2 linked regions of the Homo sapiens genome follow. The protein of the gene in region 2 interacts with the protein of the main gene of each other region in a pairwise test. Each region holds a gene or a part of one and is shown on either strand. Other genes may lie near its edges.

Region 1 (7,546 bases), about 100 Mb from region 2:
TGCTCCTCTTGGACATGGCTGGTGTAGTAGGACGGGAAGGAGCGGGTGGACATCAGATAGGAGCTGGTCTGTAAACCGCCGTAGGCAGATCGGCCAAAGACCTGGGAGCTCTGGGAGTAGCCACTGGTTATGCTTCCCACGCTGGTGAAACTGAGTCGGGTCTCCTCGCCTTCCAAGAGTTTCCTGGGGATGCAGATGCAAGGTGAGGTTAAAAAACACCTGTGTTTCACAACTTGCTCTGAGTACCCTAAACACAAAGGCAAGCAGGAGCAGGGCTGGGATTTATCAATACTTAATGCCTGGGGATCTTTTGATGGAGACCAGAAAAAATATAAATAAATCATCCTATTAGATTTAAAGTGTAATGACAAGATAAAAACAGGACTCCTAATTACAGGGTTAAATTCTTATATATCTAAATACCCTCTTCTTGGAAGAAGCCAAAAACTAACACTTCATTATTTCAAAAGGACTATTATTGAAGGTTTCTGATCCAACATAACTTTAAATGGGATCTGATTTTCTTCCTAAGGTTTAATGGCTGCTGTCTTTGCCCCTCTATTTTCACCTGTAAGCTGCAATCTCAATATCCAAAGCCATCTTCACGTTGAGGAGGTCTTGGTATTCTTTTAGGTATCGTGCCATTTCACTCTTTGTGGTCCTCAATTCATTTTCTAATTTGTTGATCGTGTCCTGTTTGAAGACAAAAATAAAACAAAAAAAAAATCCGAGCATAAATCCCTTCTATTATTTTACTGTAGTGTAGTTGCAAAGGCCTAGTTTCGATTAAAATCAAGGTGCACACCTTTGATAAAATCTCTCCTAGAATAACTTCCTGTATCTTTTGAAAAACCTTCATGCCTAAAATACCCAAGTTCATGAAGCCTGAGATGAAAAAAAAGATGGACGAAAATTCTGTTCTTCTGTTTCTTTACTTAATACTGTTTAATGATCATCATAAAATGCATGCAAACAGACTAAGTTGATAGAAAAACTGTGTCTCTCATTCACTGATTAACTCTTCTTTAGCTGGGTTACATGCCAGGAAACTAATGCCTTTCTTTATGAGAAGAAAATAGCCAGATGTAAACAAAAAAAAGAAAAAAATTATTTTCTATGAAATATTTCCTATGTATCTAAATTATTTTTTCTACTCCCCAGAAGAAGAAAAAAATTTCTACTCCCCAGAAGATGGAGATGTTTTAAAATGGAGATCTTTTTAAAATTGTATTTTTTCTACTCCCCAGAAGATGGAGATGTTTAAACAGAAATGTTGTAGAAGATTTTACACATAAAGAAAAAAAGAAAAAAAAAAGGTAAAAGGAAATGGTTTACTATGAACATCACTAGTTAACTACCTAAAACAATGTTGACTATTTTCCTGTCTACCTACTAAATAAAGGAAGGGAGTGGTTGGTAAAACTAGTCATAAAGCATGCTGGTCACAGTAATCCTTCAGAATTAATTGAGAGTTGTTCACTCTACTATTTATTAACTAGATGATCCGATAGTTGCTGCAAAGTAACTTGTGGTTAATGCAGGTCAGTAGAGAGCTGATCTCACTGCAGGCCGGAGGCAACGCCCAATTCCCACGTCTTCCCCTCCCCCACCCAACAAGGGCTGGGCAGCTTTAATGCGGAACGCCGGTGCAGCAGCACGGAGCACACTCCCAGACTACAGTGGCGCCCGCACTCACGCCCTTCAAGTGCCCCACCCCTCCCACACAGTGGCCAAGGAGCCAAGCCCTATCCCTAAGAGCTGCGTGCAGCCGCACCACCCCTGGTCTCCACTTTCTGGGCGCACCAACTCCCCCCCTTGCTCGAGTCCCCCGCCCCCCTGTGTTTCTGGCCGTGCCGCACCTGCATAGCGCTGATGTCGGCGTTCTGCTTGTCCTCCAGCTCCTGCAGCTGCTTCTCCAGCGCTTCATTCATGCCCCGGCATGCTTCGATTTCCAGGGTCTTGGCCTTGAGCAGACGACGGCTCTCGGACACCTCGTCCTTGGCGGCGCGCACGGCGTCGGTGTTCTTGGCGGCGCTCTCGGTCAGCACGGTGAAGCGGCTCTTGAACCATTCCTCAGCGTTCTGCATGTTCTTGGCGGCCAGCTTCTCGTACTGCGCGCGGATGTCCTTGAGCGCGGCGGAAAGGTCGGGCTTGGTCACGTCCATCTCCACGGAGATCTGCGCGTACTGGATCTGCGCCTGCAGTTCGGCGATCTCCTCTTCGTGCACTTTCTTCAGAAAAGAGATTTCGTCCATCAAGCTGTCGATGCGCTTCTCGAGCTCGGCGCGAGCGAGCGCCGCCTCGTCGGCGCCTTTGCGCGCTTCCATCAGCCGGCCCTCGGCGTCCTCGCGGCTCAGCACCTCCTCTTCATAGCGCGCCTGCAGGTTGCGCAGGGTCTCCTCCAGCCCTTCGCGCTCGCCCTGGAGCGCCTGCTTCTCGTTGGTGGCATCTTCCGCCGCCAGGCGCAGGTCGCGGATCTCCTGCTCGTACAGCGCCCGGAAGCGGGATGGCTCGGAGTGCTTCTGGCGCAGCACCAGCAGCTCGGCTTCCAGGACCTTGTTCTGCTGCTCCAGCTCGTGCACGCGCTCGATGAAGCTGGCGAAGCGGTCATTGAGGTCCTGGAGCTGCGCCTTCTCCTGCGTGCGGATGGACTTGAGGTCGTTGCTGATGGCGGCTACCTGGCTCAGGTCGAGGTTCTCCAGACTGGGCATCAACGATCCAGAGCTGGAGGAGTAGCTGCGGCGCACGGACAGCGAGGAAGACACCGGCGCCGAGTAGCTGGAGTAAGCTGAGCGTGCGGTGCTGTAGCCGCTGCGCACGCTGGAGATGTGCACCCGGGGCGTCTCCACGTAGCGCCGCTTGTAGGAGGTCGAGTAGTACGGCTCGTAGCTGAAGGAACTCATGGTGGCGGCCGGTGGCTCCCCGGCCCGCGGCGGCGGTGGGAGCCCGGAGAGAGAGGACAGGGGAGAGAGGGAAGGGGGAGGATGGATGGCTGTGTGCGGCTCGGCGCCGTTCTGCCACCCCTATTTATACGCCGGGAGGCTCCTGACGCAGCCTGCGATCGATCACGGCACGCCGGCCAGTGGGGGCAGCGCGCTGCTGCAGCCAAGGCGAGGATTCTGCGCAAAAGGGAAGGCGGGGTCGAGCTACGGCCCGAGGAGCTGCGGCGGTCGTCCTTTCCACTTTGCTCAGAGGGCCCTGATTTTCTCTGAGATCCCATGCCCCCTCACTCATTTCCCTTCTGTACTCACTCACGCAGCCCCTCCCGTCCTGCATTGCCCAGACCCCGTGACACTTGGATCCTTAAGTTGCCCCCAAAACAGGTTCTTGCTCCCTTTTGACACCCTAGTTTTCTGTATCCCGTCACCTCGCAGACACCCTGTCCCCCCAACTCGCCCTTTTCCCACCAGGAACCTCCTTAATTTTTTCCCTTGGTGTTTACGGTGATGGTGCGGCTAGGGAATTTTAGATACAAATAAATAGGCTAGGTTATGTGTATGCAGTATGTATGGAGAAGAGTTTTAATTTCTTTCTAGCTTTCTGGCACTTTCTGCAATTCATCTTCCTTTCTCCTGATTATTTTTCTTTTTCTTTAATGAGCTGCTTAACACATAGGGAATGTGCGCGCGAGTGCGCGCGCGCGCGCGCACACACACACACACACACACACACACTCGTGAAACTGCGGCACTACTGCAGGTATTGGTTTAGCATTTTTAAACCTTTACAGCAGTTAATCCGCCTGTTAGTGTTTCTAGATTTTCACATTTCTTAACTGAGAATGAAGCCGCAGATGGCTTTAACGTGTTGCAGTGTGTGGGTGGTGGAGGGCAGAGAAAGAGTTGGAAACACAGAGACTGACTTGCTGAGGCAGCCGCGCGCTCCGCAGCCGGGAGCTTCAAGCTGCCTGGATCCTCACCAAGCTAAATTCCTGCTTGCTACCACCAACCGCAGCACATTTAAAGTCCGCTTTCCTCTTTTTACACATGTGTAGCACACGACCTGATGATTTCGATAAGCCTTGCAGTTGGCTGATTTTCAGGGAAGCCGCTGCGGCCAGCCCTGAGCGCTGGGTGTGGTCTCTGGGGAGGAGAACTCGGCACCCAGGCTTCTTCAGGAACGGATAGAAAATAGCCATAGCCGCGTGACTCTTCCCCCGATACAATGTAATAACCCGAAAACAGATGCAGTCAGGAATGCATGGATTTCCTTCAGGAAGCACCCAGATGCTTGAAACTGGCGCACGCGGTAGCGCACGTGGATACAACCCTACGGTTTGCAGGGCATTTTCACACGCATGATGTTAGGAGTCCCCCAGGTTTCATGGAGGGATTGCAGAGATTTACACGAAACACCTAAGATTTATCTGAGCAAGCATTTAGTTTTTGTTTTATTTGTATATCGCAGCATTTGATGTGCAACTTATGTTTTTTTTAAGAGGCAAACTGAGGGGGAATATGGTAACTGTTTTCAAATAGAGAAGCCGGAATGGCTTCCCCTGTGATACTTGGAGGGTGAAGTATTTGCAGTGGTGCAGTTGCTTCTGGAGACATTTCACTCCTCTCCCGAGGAAAGGATGGGGTGAGGCTTATCCTCAGAGGCCCTTTCTCATCCCCCCCCCCAAAAAAAATACCTGTGATTGTGATAGCCCACCGTCCTCATGATAGACTGCAGCAGATAACTTTCCTCGGGTTTCTAAACAATGTCTGTTGTCGCAAATAATGCAAATTCACAAATATTGAAATTAGTAGTTTAAATCTATCAAGACTAAGTGATCTCAGAGGACCATCCATGCCCAAATATTCTAGATTTCAAGCCTAAGGTCATGAGGCTGTCCTGAATATTGTTTGTCCCTGGCAGGTTTGGTAGGGTACTTACTCTGTTGACTTTTCATAGCCTAGCTATCCTTGGTCTTTTCACTCATGAAATTCAAGGGTGGAATAGGCTTCTCTGGAGGCGGAGGGTGGAACAAGGACCCAGATAAGCCATAGAGTTGTCTCCTCCCAATTACCCATATGTAGATGAAGCATGGCAGAATGGATTATTTTGTTAACCTGCTCCCTGCAAACCTCATTGTTCCACACTCAGTGTGTGTGAGTCTGCATAAAACACACTCTCAGGTATTTATGAATTCGTTTCCTTTGTGCCAGCTGTCTTTCCCCGGAGTTTCAGGTCACCCTCAGATCTTAAGTCCATCAGCGTTTTTTTTCTTTCTTTCTTTCTTTTTTTTTTTTTTTTTTTTTCTTTTTTTCCGCGGCTCCTCCCTGAAGCCTTTGACTGCAGAGGAGGCTGCCCAGAAAGGAGAGGGGCGGCGGGTGCTGCAGAGGGATGCTTCAGAGAGAAGAAACCATTGGGGCACCTGCTGCCTGCCGTCCCCTGGGTAGCTGGAAAAAAGAGGAACACAGGAGCAAAGGGTGAGAATGGGACCCTTTCCTGTGCTGAACCCGGCCCACAGAGTGGGGGAAGGGGCAGATCCACAGCGTTTAGGCTTATCGATCTCTGGTCTTTTTAAATATCTCCTGGCCTGGCCACCTCATACTCCACGACAGCCTTGCTTTGCAGGACTCCCGAATCCAGCCGGGGTCTGAGTTTTGGTTACTCTATCTTCAGCCTTCCTCTGCCAGGTGCCTGCCTCTTCTTTAATATTCTGTCCAGTCATCCTCCTTTTTGAATCCTCTTTCCAGCATTTTGCTCTAAAAGCACACATGGCATTGCTTTGTGTGGCAAAGCAAAGTGAACAACTTTAGAAAACCTATTTAGGTAGAATATATATATTGACTTTTTCTTTCCCTCACCATAAATGTTTCTGATTAGTGCTGTTTGTAGTAGAGTCGCAGTCTCTTTAGAAGGAGGCTTTTGAGTCTTGTCACACCCTTATGCATTTATTCCCCTTTAAACATATTCTCTGCAAACCTGAACTTGGTTGAGGGCTATCAACAAAACATGCTCCTGGGAGATTAAAAATATGGAAGTATGTTGATGACCCCTTTAACAGAATTCCTACCACTCTGGTTATCCCTAATACTTCTGTAACCCTCCAAAGAACTGTCCCAGGTCATTTAGTTAAAAAGCAAATATCTTCACAGTAATAATAATAAAAAAAACATAAGGCATAACTCTTAGAACCACTGAAAACATTCTACTTCTCCAGTGCCAGCAGAGCCTGAAAGTTTCAGATAGATGGGACCTGGCGACTGATGACTTTTCATTTTATTATTCTAAAGCCATCTGAGAAAGCAGGAAGTTCTGTATTGGCATGTGTTTTTGAAAAGGTCAGCTTTAGGGTAGGGCCCATGAAAAGCCTCAGTCCAAGAGTCAAAAAAGTCAAGTTCTCCTACCACCAATAAGCTCTGGCAGAAGTCCTAGGACAGAACAGCGGATGAGTCGGCCGGGCGCAGTGGCTCATGCCTGTAATCCCAGCACTTGGGGAGGTCGAGGCGGGTAGATCACAAGGTCAGGAGTTCGAGACCAGCCTGGCCAATATGGTGAAAACCCGTCTCTACTAAAAATACAAAAAAATTAGCCAGGTGTGGTGGCACATGCCTTCAATCCCAGCTACTCAGGAGACTGAGGCAGGAGAACTGCTTGAATCTGGGAGGCGGGGTTGCAGTGAGCTGAGATCGCGCCACTGCACTCCAGCCTGGGTGACAGAGTGAGACTGCATCTCAAAAAAAAAAAAAGAAGAAAGAAAAGAAAAAGAACAGCCGATCAGCAGATGAGTCTCCATCCATCTCACCACCAGGTAGATACATCAGTGTCACCAAAGCTGGCATCGGTACGTGGATGCAAGGAAACCCAGTAAATAAATGCATGCAAGATACCTGCTATATGACAGGCATTTGCTATCTTGTATTGAATAATGACAAGATCACCTGGAGATGGTCACTATTATTCAGAGCAAACAGCTGAGGCCCAGAGAAGTAAGTAATTTGCCAACTCACACAGCTCCTTCAAACCTAAGCTCCACCTGCTTCCAGACTGAGGGTTCTACTCATTCCACAAACTGCAGCCATTGGCATTTACTGCTTCCTTATGTCTCTGTGGAATTTGATAAGCGAAGTCTGCCATCTGCAGAGTTTAGCGTGCATATAATAAACCTATCCTGCTTTGGGGACACCAATTTGAATTCTTCTGCACCATGAGGAAACCATTAACGAGCATGCTCCATTTGGGCAGCTAGTGGCAGCAAAAAACTACATGATTGTTGTAGGTTTCTCAAATATCCCAATGTAAAATAAAATGGGTGTGGCCAGTGGAACATGACACATAACTGGCACTGTAACATTTTACATGCAACTCTAAACATCAATTTACAAAACACCCTTTCAGGAATTAATAAGCTAAAATGCAAATTAGCTGACCTAACTCTTTAAAATGGCCACATCACGACTTCCACTTTTTTTTTTTTTCTGATTACAGTATCTTCATTTTCCACCCTTGTAAATGGGTTTTCTTTGGAAACGTGCCCTTAAAAGTTGCTCTAAGGAATAAAAGAAAAAAATGCTGGCACTGAACACCTCATTATTGGAGTTTATAATGCTTTCTG
Region 2 (7,468 bases):
TAGTATAAGTTCAGAAGCAATATAAAAAACAGGTTAAATAAATACTGTTATATTTACCCAATGGAATATCATGCAACTGTTAAAAAAAAGAATACTGGGAGCTCTATGATAAATGTCTGTACTATTATAAAAAACTCTCGGTTGGGTGCAGTGGCTCATGACTGTAATCCCAGCACTTTGGGAGGCTGAAGCAGGTGGATTGCTTGAGCCCAGGAGTTGGAGATCAGCCTGGGCAACATAGTAAGACCCTGTCTCTACAAAAAACGAAGCAAAACAAAACAAAAACAACAAAAAAACCAAAACCCAAAATTAGCTTGGAGCTGAGAGTGGTAGCACACACCTGTGGTCCCACATACTTGGGAGGCTGAGGTGGGAGGATTGCTTGAGCCCTGGAGGTTGAGGTTGCAGTGAGCTGAGATCATGCCACTGGACTCTAGCTTGGGGGACAGAGTGAGATCCTGCCTCAGAAATTAAAAAAAAAAAAGAGAGAAGAAAAGAAAACTCTCCATGTTGTTAAGTGAAAAAACTAAAATTTAGAACAAAGTGAATAGTTTACTATATGTGTAGCAAAAGAAATGTATGAATATATGTCATCTATCTTTATTCATTACCTATATATGTGTATATATACATATGTATATAAGCAGGTAGGTAGGTATTTGCTCACATATGGCATTATCTGTGAATAATACACAAGAAACATACAACGTTGGTTGCCCCAGTGGTGAGAAGAACTGGATAGCTGGGGGCAGGGATGAGAGAGGACATTTCATTTTATGTATGTATTTTGGAGGTTTTTGTTCATTTGCTTGTTTGTTGAGAAAGCAGATTCTGAGACTGAGTTTAGTGTCCAGGGTGTTGATTAGGAAATGGCCTTGGTATCCAAACCTGTGGAAGGGTGAGAAAGGAATCAGGATTGAGCAGAGGGGGAAGACCTACAATTTGGGCCTGACAACACATTCCTCCATCAAGGCCATCAAGAACTCAGGAGTTGGCTGGGCACTGTGGCTCACACCTGTAATCCCAACACTTTGGGAGGCAAAGGCAGGAGGATTGCTTGAGCCCAGGGGTTCACATCAGCCTGGGAAACAAAGTGAGACCCCCCTCTCTACAAAAAAAATTAAAAAATTAGCAAGGCATTGTGGCACGTGACTTTAGTCCCAGTTACTTAAGAGGCTGAGATGGGAGGATTGCTAGAACCTGGGCAGTCGAGGCTGCAGTAAGCCGTGATTGTGCCACTGCATTCCAGCCTGGGTGACAGAGTAAGACTGTCTTAAAAAACAAACAAACAAACAACACTCAGGAGCTGAAATAGTGCATTTAAGAGTTATCCTGCTTTGGACAACATGGACAGCCTTTTATATTTCTGCCTTGATCAGTCCCCAGACGTGGGCTGCCTTGGAAAGGGCATGAGCTCCAGAAAGGCTATTCTCTGAAACTGAAGCACTCCCTGAGGGAGCTAACAGCTGAAAGCTTTCTGTTCACAGCACTCTCAAAGGTGGGCAACATGTACTTCCTTGGATTCTGAGTGATTCATCTCTGTGTCTGTCACTTACGGCCTATATGATTATGATCTAACCTCTTGAAACTTCTCTGACCTTACCTCCAAGTACTGTTCACTTCACTTGCTCTGCTCCTTATTGTTTCTTGAGTTTCCATCTCAGAGTCCTTTTTCTTACTGTTCCTGTCTTAATTGTTCCTCCCTTAAATAACAATGAGGCCCACGACTTTCTTCCTTCATACTTCTGCTGAAATATCTGCCTACTGAGAGGACTTCCCTGATCACCTTACCTGAAATAGTACACTTCCTTTAACTTCCTTTACTTCTTTTTCTAATACTCATCACTGCTTAACATACATTTCTTTGTTTACTTTTTGTTGATGTTCATTTATGATCTCCCTCACATTGTTTGGTTCCCTGGTGTATCCTCAGTGTCTAGGATAACACAGTAACAGGCACATAGTAGGCTTTCAACAAATATTTGTTGAATGAATGAATGAAGGAGTCAGGCACTGTGCTAAGTTGTAAGATAGAATTACAAGCAAAAGTGGAGGCAGGCCTTGTTCTCATGGAGCTTGCTATCTGGATGGAGAGGCAAAATAATGCATCAATCACACAAAGCTGCAGTCATGACATGGGCTAAAATGGAAAAAAAGATATGGTAGGAGAAGAGCATGTAGAAGAGCCTTGAAAGCTTCTGTGAGAAAGTGATGTGTAAGCTGAAATCTGAAGGATGAGTAAGCTTCAATTAGGCAAAGGAACATGGAAGAATCAGGTTCATTTTTGGAAAAGATCCCTCTGGATTCAACAGGGAAGAGTGAATGAGAGGGAGCAAGGATGGGTATCTATGGGACTGTTAGGAGGGTATGGAAATCCTTCAAATGGGGGGTGATGGTTGCTTGAATTAGAGGTGACCCTGGTGGTTAGAAGAAACAACTACAGGTGAGAATTATTTATTACACAACAGATGAGGCTTATTTATGAATTGTATATGGAAGGTAAGGAAAGGGAAGTGAAAAGAAGGGCTTCTGGGTTTCCATATAACTGGATGGATGGTTGAAAGAATATTGGAAGAGAAACAGGTTTATTTTGTTTTATTTTGTGTTTATATGTGTATATGGAGAAGAACAGTGAGAGAGAAGACAGATTATGATTTTGATTTTTGACATTTTGGTTTTGAGGTGTTATTGAGACTTCCTGTATGAGATGCCAAATAGACCATTGGTTATGAGTGAAGAGCTCAGACATGTAGCTTGGGCTGGAGAAGTAAATTTTTGAGTTGTCTGCCTAGGTGGTATTTGAAAATGTGGGAGTGGATGAGATTGCCTAGGCAGAGAACATTCAGTGATAAGAGGAGAGGATGATCTTGAGGGACTGACTTGGAAAAGAGACTAACAGGACTGACTAGAGATGTTGGAAGAAAAGGAGGAGAATGTGATGTCACCTCAAAAGAGTGTTTCTAGAAGACGAGTCCGTAGCCATATCAAACCTCCTGAAAAAGGACCCGAGAACTAAAAATACCAGTTGCACTAACTAACATCATGGAGGTCATTGGTGATGCTAGTGATTTTTTTGTTGTTGTTGTTGCAGGAGAAATGTTAAGGTTAGTGGAAAATTGATGAAATGGAAACATTGTGAGTAAAAAGAGAAAAGAAAAGCTGAGGGACTATTTGGGGATGGGGGTGGAGGGATGGAGAGTTTAGTTGGTAGTGCGAAGTTTCCAAGAAGATAGGTAGGAAAGTGAGTACCAGTAAAGGGCTTATTAAAATACCAAAGAGCCCAGCACTTTGGGAGGCTGAGGCGGGCAGATCATGAGGTCAAGAGATCAAGACCATCCTGGCCAACATGGTGAAACCCAGTCTCTACTAAAAATGCAAAAATTAGCTGGGCATGGTGGCGCACACCTGTAGTCCTAGCTACTTGGGAGGCTGAGGCAGGAGAATTGCTTGAACCCGGGAGGCAGAGGTTGCAGTGAGCCGAAATCCTGCCATTGCACTCCAGACTGGTGACACAGTGAAACTCCATCACAAAAAAAAAAAAAAAAAAAAAAAAGGTCACAGAGGGACTCTGTATTGTAACAGGAGGGAAGAAAGAAAACGGCAGGGTGCAGACTTGAGTAGATTTCTGTTTGGTAGAGGTGAGATGAAGGGATTGGCTTCTATTTTCTCTGTAATGAAAGAGGAGGGATTAACTACTTTTCTAGGTGTTAATAAGGGTGCCTTGTAAACGAATTGTTTTATATGTGAATGGATGCCTTAGCTTTCTAACTTTCACAGGTAAGTAAATATATATCCATGTTCATAGCGGTGGGAACAGAAACAATAGGTGTTTAAAAATACTAGATTGAGGCCGGGCGCGGTGGCTCACGCCTGTAATCCCAGCACTTTGGGAGGCCGAGGTGGGCGGATCACGAGGTCAGGAGATCGAGACCATCCTGGCTAACCCGGTGAAACCCCGTCTCTACGAAAAATATAAAAATTAGCCGGGCATGGTGGCAGGCACCTGTAGTCCCAGCTACTCGAGAGGCTGAGACAGGAGGATGGCGTGAACCCAGGAGGCGGAGCTTGCAGTGAGCCGAGATCGCGCCACTGCACTCCAGCCTAGGCAACAGCGAGACTCCGTCTCAAAAAAGAAAAATACTAGATTGATTTTGATTCTAATAGTGATGATAATTAATCTGATGATATTCTGATGGCAAGGAAAAGTATAAGCTCCAATCAGGCCCCTGTCGTAAGCCGCCTGACAAGTGAGAGAAATGAGGTTCACAGTTGGCTGGTCACAGCACAGGGAAAGGAAATCCACCCCCACGCTCCTTCTGGTCCAGGACCCTAAGGGTTAAGATCAACGAGAGTGGGCCATCACTGTTTCCTAGAACGGCCCCAGCAAAGCCGCCGGGGGAGATGAGGGTAACTTCCTGTTTCTGCCTTCCGGGTTTGAGAGTTTAGGACCCTGGGTTGGTGGGGTCAGAGGGAGAGGGGGTACCTTCCTCCCGGACCGCTGGGGGTGCAGGGCGCCTTGGGTGTAGCACCCAGAACAGTGAGTTCCTTCTTGGGGGGAAGGGAGCCGAGGGTTGCGGGCTAGAGGAGTGGAAACAGCCCCGTCCAGGCTGCAGTGGACGTCCGGGAGAGAGTTCCCGCTGCTGCCAGGGGCGAAGGCCCAGCATCTCCCGCCGACGGGCCACCGTCATCCTTGTCCGCGGGGTCCCTTACGGGATCTTGTCGGCCGGAGACCGTCTGGTATCCTGGAACTTCACCCCCCAGCGTCTCCAACTTGTACCAGCCAGCGGTTCTTAAAACTAGGCTTCAGGCAGTGCATTTTCTTTGAAGGCTTTCTGATCAAAGCACGGCCCCACTCTGATCACATTGTTGCTCTAGAACAGTGAAAACACTCCTTCCCCGTGGAGAGACATCTTAATGGCAGCCTTGTATGGTCTTGCATTTGCCACCATTTTGCTGAGCCACTGTTCCGGGGGCTCCTTTGCTGCCAAATTTAATAGTATTTTAGTAGGGAAAATGGGGGAGATGGTAATGTGTTGCCCAGACTCTTGCTGCTTTTGTAAATACTTTGATAACAATATGTAACTTAGGACAGCAAAATATATAACTCCATTCGAACAACTCCACCCCCTTCCTTTTTTTGCATTCAGGTGTATGGTTTTTTCTCCCCCCCAACTCAAACACTGGGGATATTAGTAATGTAGACTAGTTTCACGTTTCTCTAGAACAAATCCCCACTTGCTGAGTGTGCTTAGGGAATGTCGACTCACTTTGTTAACAAGGTTTAGGAATGTAGACCTCTGTTTTAAAATGCCAGTATTCTAAATATTCTAAAATAAAGGGACTCTGAGGATTCTTTGCAGTTTGGGATTATGCCCAGCTCTGCTTCCTGTTCTAGTTTACGATAATAGATCAGAGGGTGAAAAAGGTCAGCATCCAAACAGACTTGGAGCTCAGTCCTGCTCTACCACTTTCTAGGTGACCTTAGGAAAGTTTCTTAATACCTTTCAAACTCATCCTATAAAATGCTGGTAGTTGTTCATACACTTCAGAGGGCTACTGTAAGAATTAAATGACAAATGTGTGCAAATTATTTCATTCACTACCTGGCACATAATAGGCAGTAATGGTGAAGATACAATATAAGTACATATACTATTTTTTGTTTTTAAAATGTGTGCATTTGTATATCCTTTTACGTCCTTATTTTTCTCCCAAATAATGATACTCTTTATATTCTGAAATGGATGCCAAAAGTCCATATGTCACTGCCTTCCTGTGATAGATCACATTTTCTTCTTTTTCTTTTTCTTTTTTCTTTTTTTTTGTTGAGACAGAGTCTTGCTCTGTCACCCAGGCTGGAGTGGTGCAATGGCACGATCTCGGCTCACTGCAACCTCTGCCTCCTGGGTTCAAGCGATTCTCCTGCCTCAGCCCCCTGAGTAGCTGGGACCACAGGCGCCCGCCACCACACCCGGCTAATTTTTTGTATTTTTAGTAGAGATGGGGTTTCACCGCATTAGCCAGGATGGAACATTTTCTAGTCCCTTAAAATAGGTTAGTGATTGTTGGCTCCAGAAGACGAAGTTTAGGCTGAAATGGATATTGTGAATATGATAGACTTAGGAACTAAGTGCAAGGAGGAAGAGGTCCCTCTTTAGCCTCCTTTTTATATTGCAGGGTTATTGGCTATAATTATTCCACCTCGGCTTTGTCCTAATTTCTCTTTACTGGTTATATAAATCCTAACTTTCCTTTGAAATTGACTTCAAAGGTTTCCTTCTGTCAAGACCAAGTTATTCTTTTGAAACTAAACAGGGTGCTTTTTTTCTTTAGCTGCTGCTTATGCCTTCATATTGATTCCTTGAAGTCTTTATAAGTTTTATTATTGGTGTCTTAAAAAAAATACTTTGCTTTTTAAAGTAAAAGTGTTTCTAAGCTACGTGTGGACAATGAGGATTAGTATTCTGTCTTTGAAGCTTGATCCTCAGACCTTTAATGTGAAGATTTACTTTTTTGCATTGTTATTTCAGGGTTAACCCTTAATTCTAAACACTTAGATCTGAGATAAGATTTTCTAAAAGGGCTGCTAAAAGTTGTGTTTCTTATTTTCGGTATGGTTCATGGAACATTCTATGCCTCCTATTGTTGTGTTGGAATGGTTGGGAAGGAAGGAGGAAGAATAAGCTTTAACAAATACCTCCAAACATAATTTATTTCCTTCCACAGGGTTTCTGATCTCTAACTTGGCTGTGATCATTGTGATGGAGCAAGAAAAAAAACTGTTGGTCTCAGATTCTAACAGCTTTATGGAGAGGGAGAGTTTGAAAAGCCCTTTCACAGGTGAGGGATCAAGACGATGATCTGAATCCTTAGGAAATTTGATGTAGAAAGAACAGGACACTAGAATGAGACAAACCTTAATTTAATTCCTTGTTCTGTCACTTATAAGCTGTGTTAATTATTTCAGCCTCATTGTTCTCATCTTTAAGAAAATGAATAATATCTATTTCACATATATTTTAGAATTAGTGAGATACCGTATCCAAAGCTACTGTTCTTAATAAATAGTGGCTATTGTTATTTCTATAGCATTTGCTCAGATTTTAGCAAAGCTATTGTCTAGTTTTTACCTGAGATGGTATCCTGTTCAATTTAACTTCTATTCACATCAATCCTGTTTTTTCTCTTAAGTCTTCTAGAACAAAACCTAATGCATTTATTTTTAGATTGATGTTCCCTTTGCCAATAATGATTCAAATAATTCATTATTGTTGTTGCTAGGTACAAAAAAAAATCCACCTGCTTCTGGTAAACAGAGGAAAAGAAGTAAAACTGTCTTTAAAAACTTTTTTATATGAAATTATTTATGAGGTTTTACAGTGTTATTTCCTCTCTTCCACTGCAATTTAGAATTTACTTCTCTGGCAGAGATTTGGAATATGGTTAGAATATTTGTTTATTCTTGCAG

Evidence for each region. The genes of interacting proteins can lie anywhere in the genome.
Region 1: the proteins of ZNF572 (region 2) and NEFL interact in binary tests that used the Homo sapiens proteins (3 or more experiments, as listed by UniProt).

What each region holds. Positions count from the first base shown.
Region 1 is NC_000008.11:24,953,613-24,961,158, forward strand, and holds the start of NEFL (neurofilament light polypeptide), read right to left. Parts: upstream 3,001-7,546; 5' UTR 2,904-3,000; coding exon 1,860-2,903; intron 694-1,859; coding exon 569-693; intron 256-568; exon of another isoform or gene 184-255; coding exon 1-183. UniProt on the Homo sapiens protein: Neurofilaments usually contain three intermediate filament proteins: NEFL, NEFM, and NEFH which are involved in the maintenance of neuronal caliber.
Region 2 is NC_000008.11:124,968,880-124,976,347, forward strand, and holds the start of ZNF572 (zinc finger protein 572), read left to right. Parts: upstream 1-4,415; 5' UTR 4,416-4,537; intron 4,538-6,726; 5' UTR 6,727-6,761; coding exon 6,762-6,840; intron 6,841-7,468. UniProt on the Homo sapiens protein: May be involved in transcriptional regulation.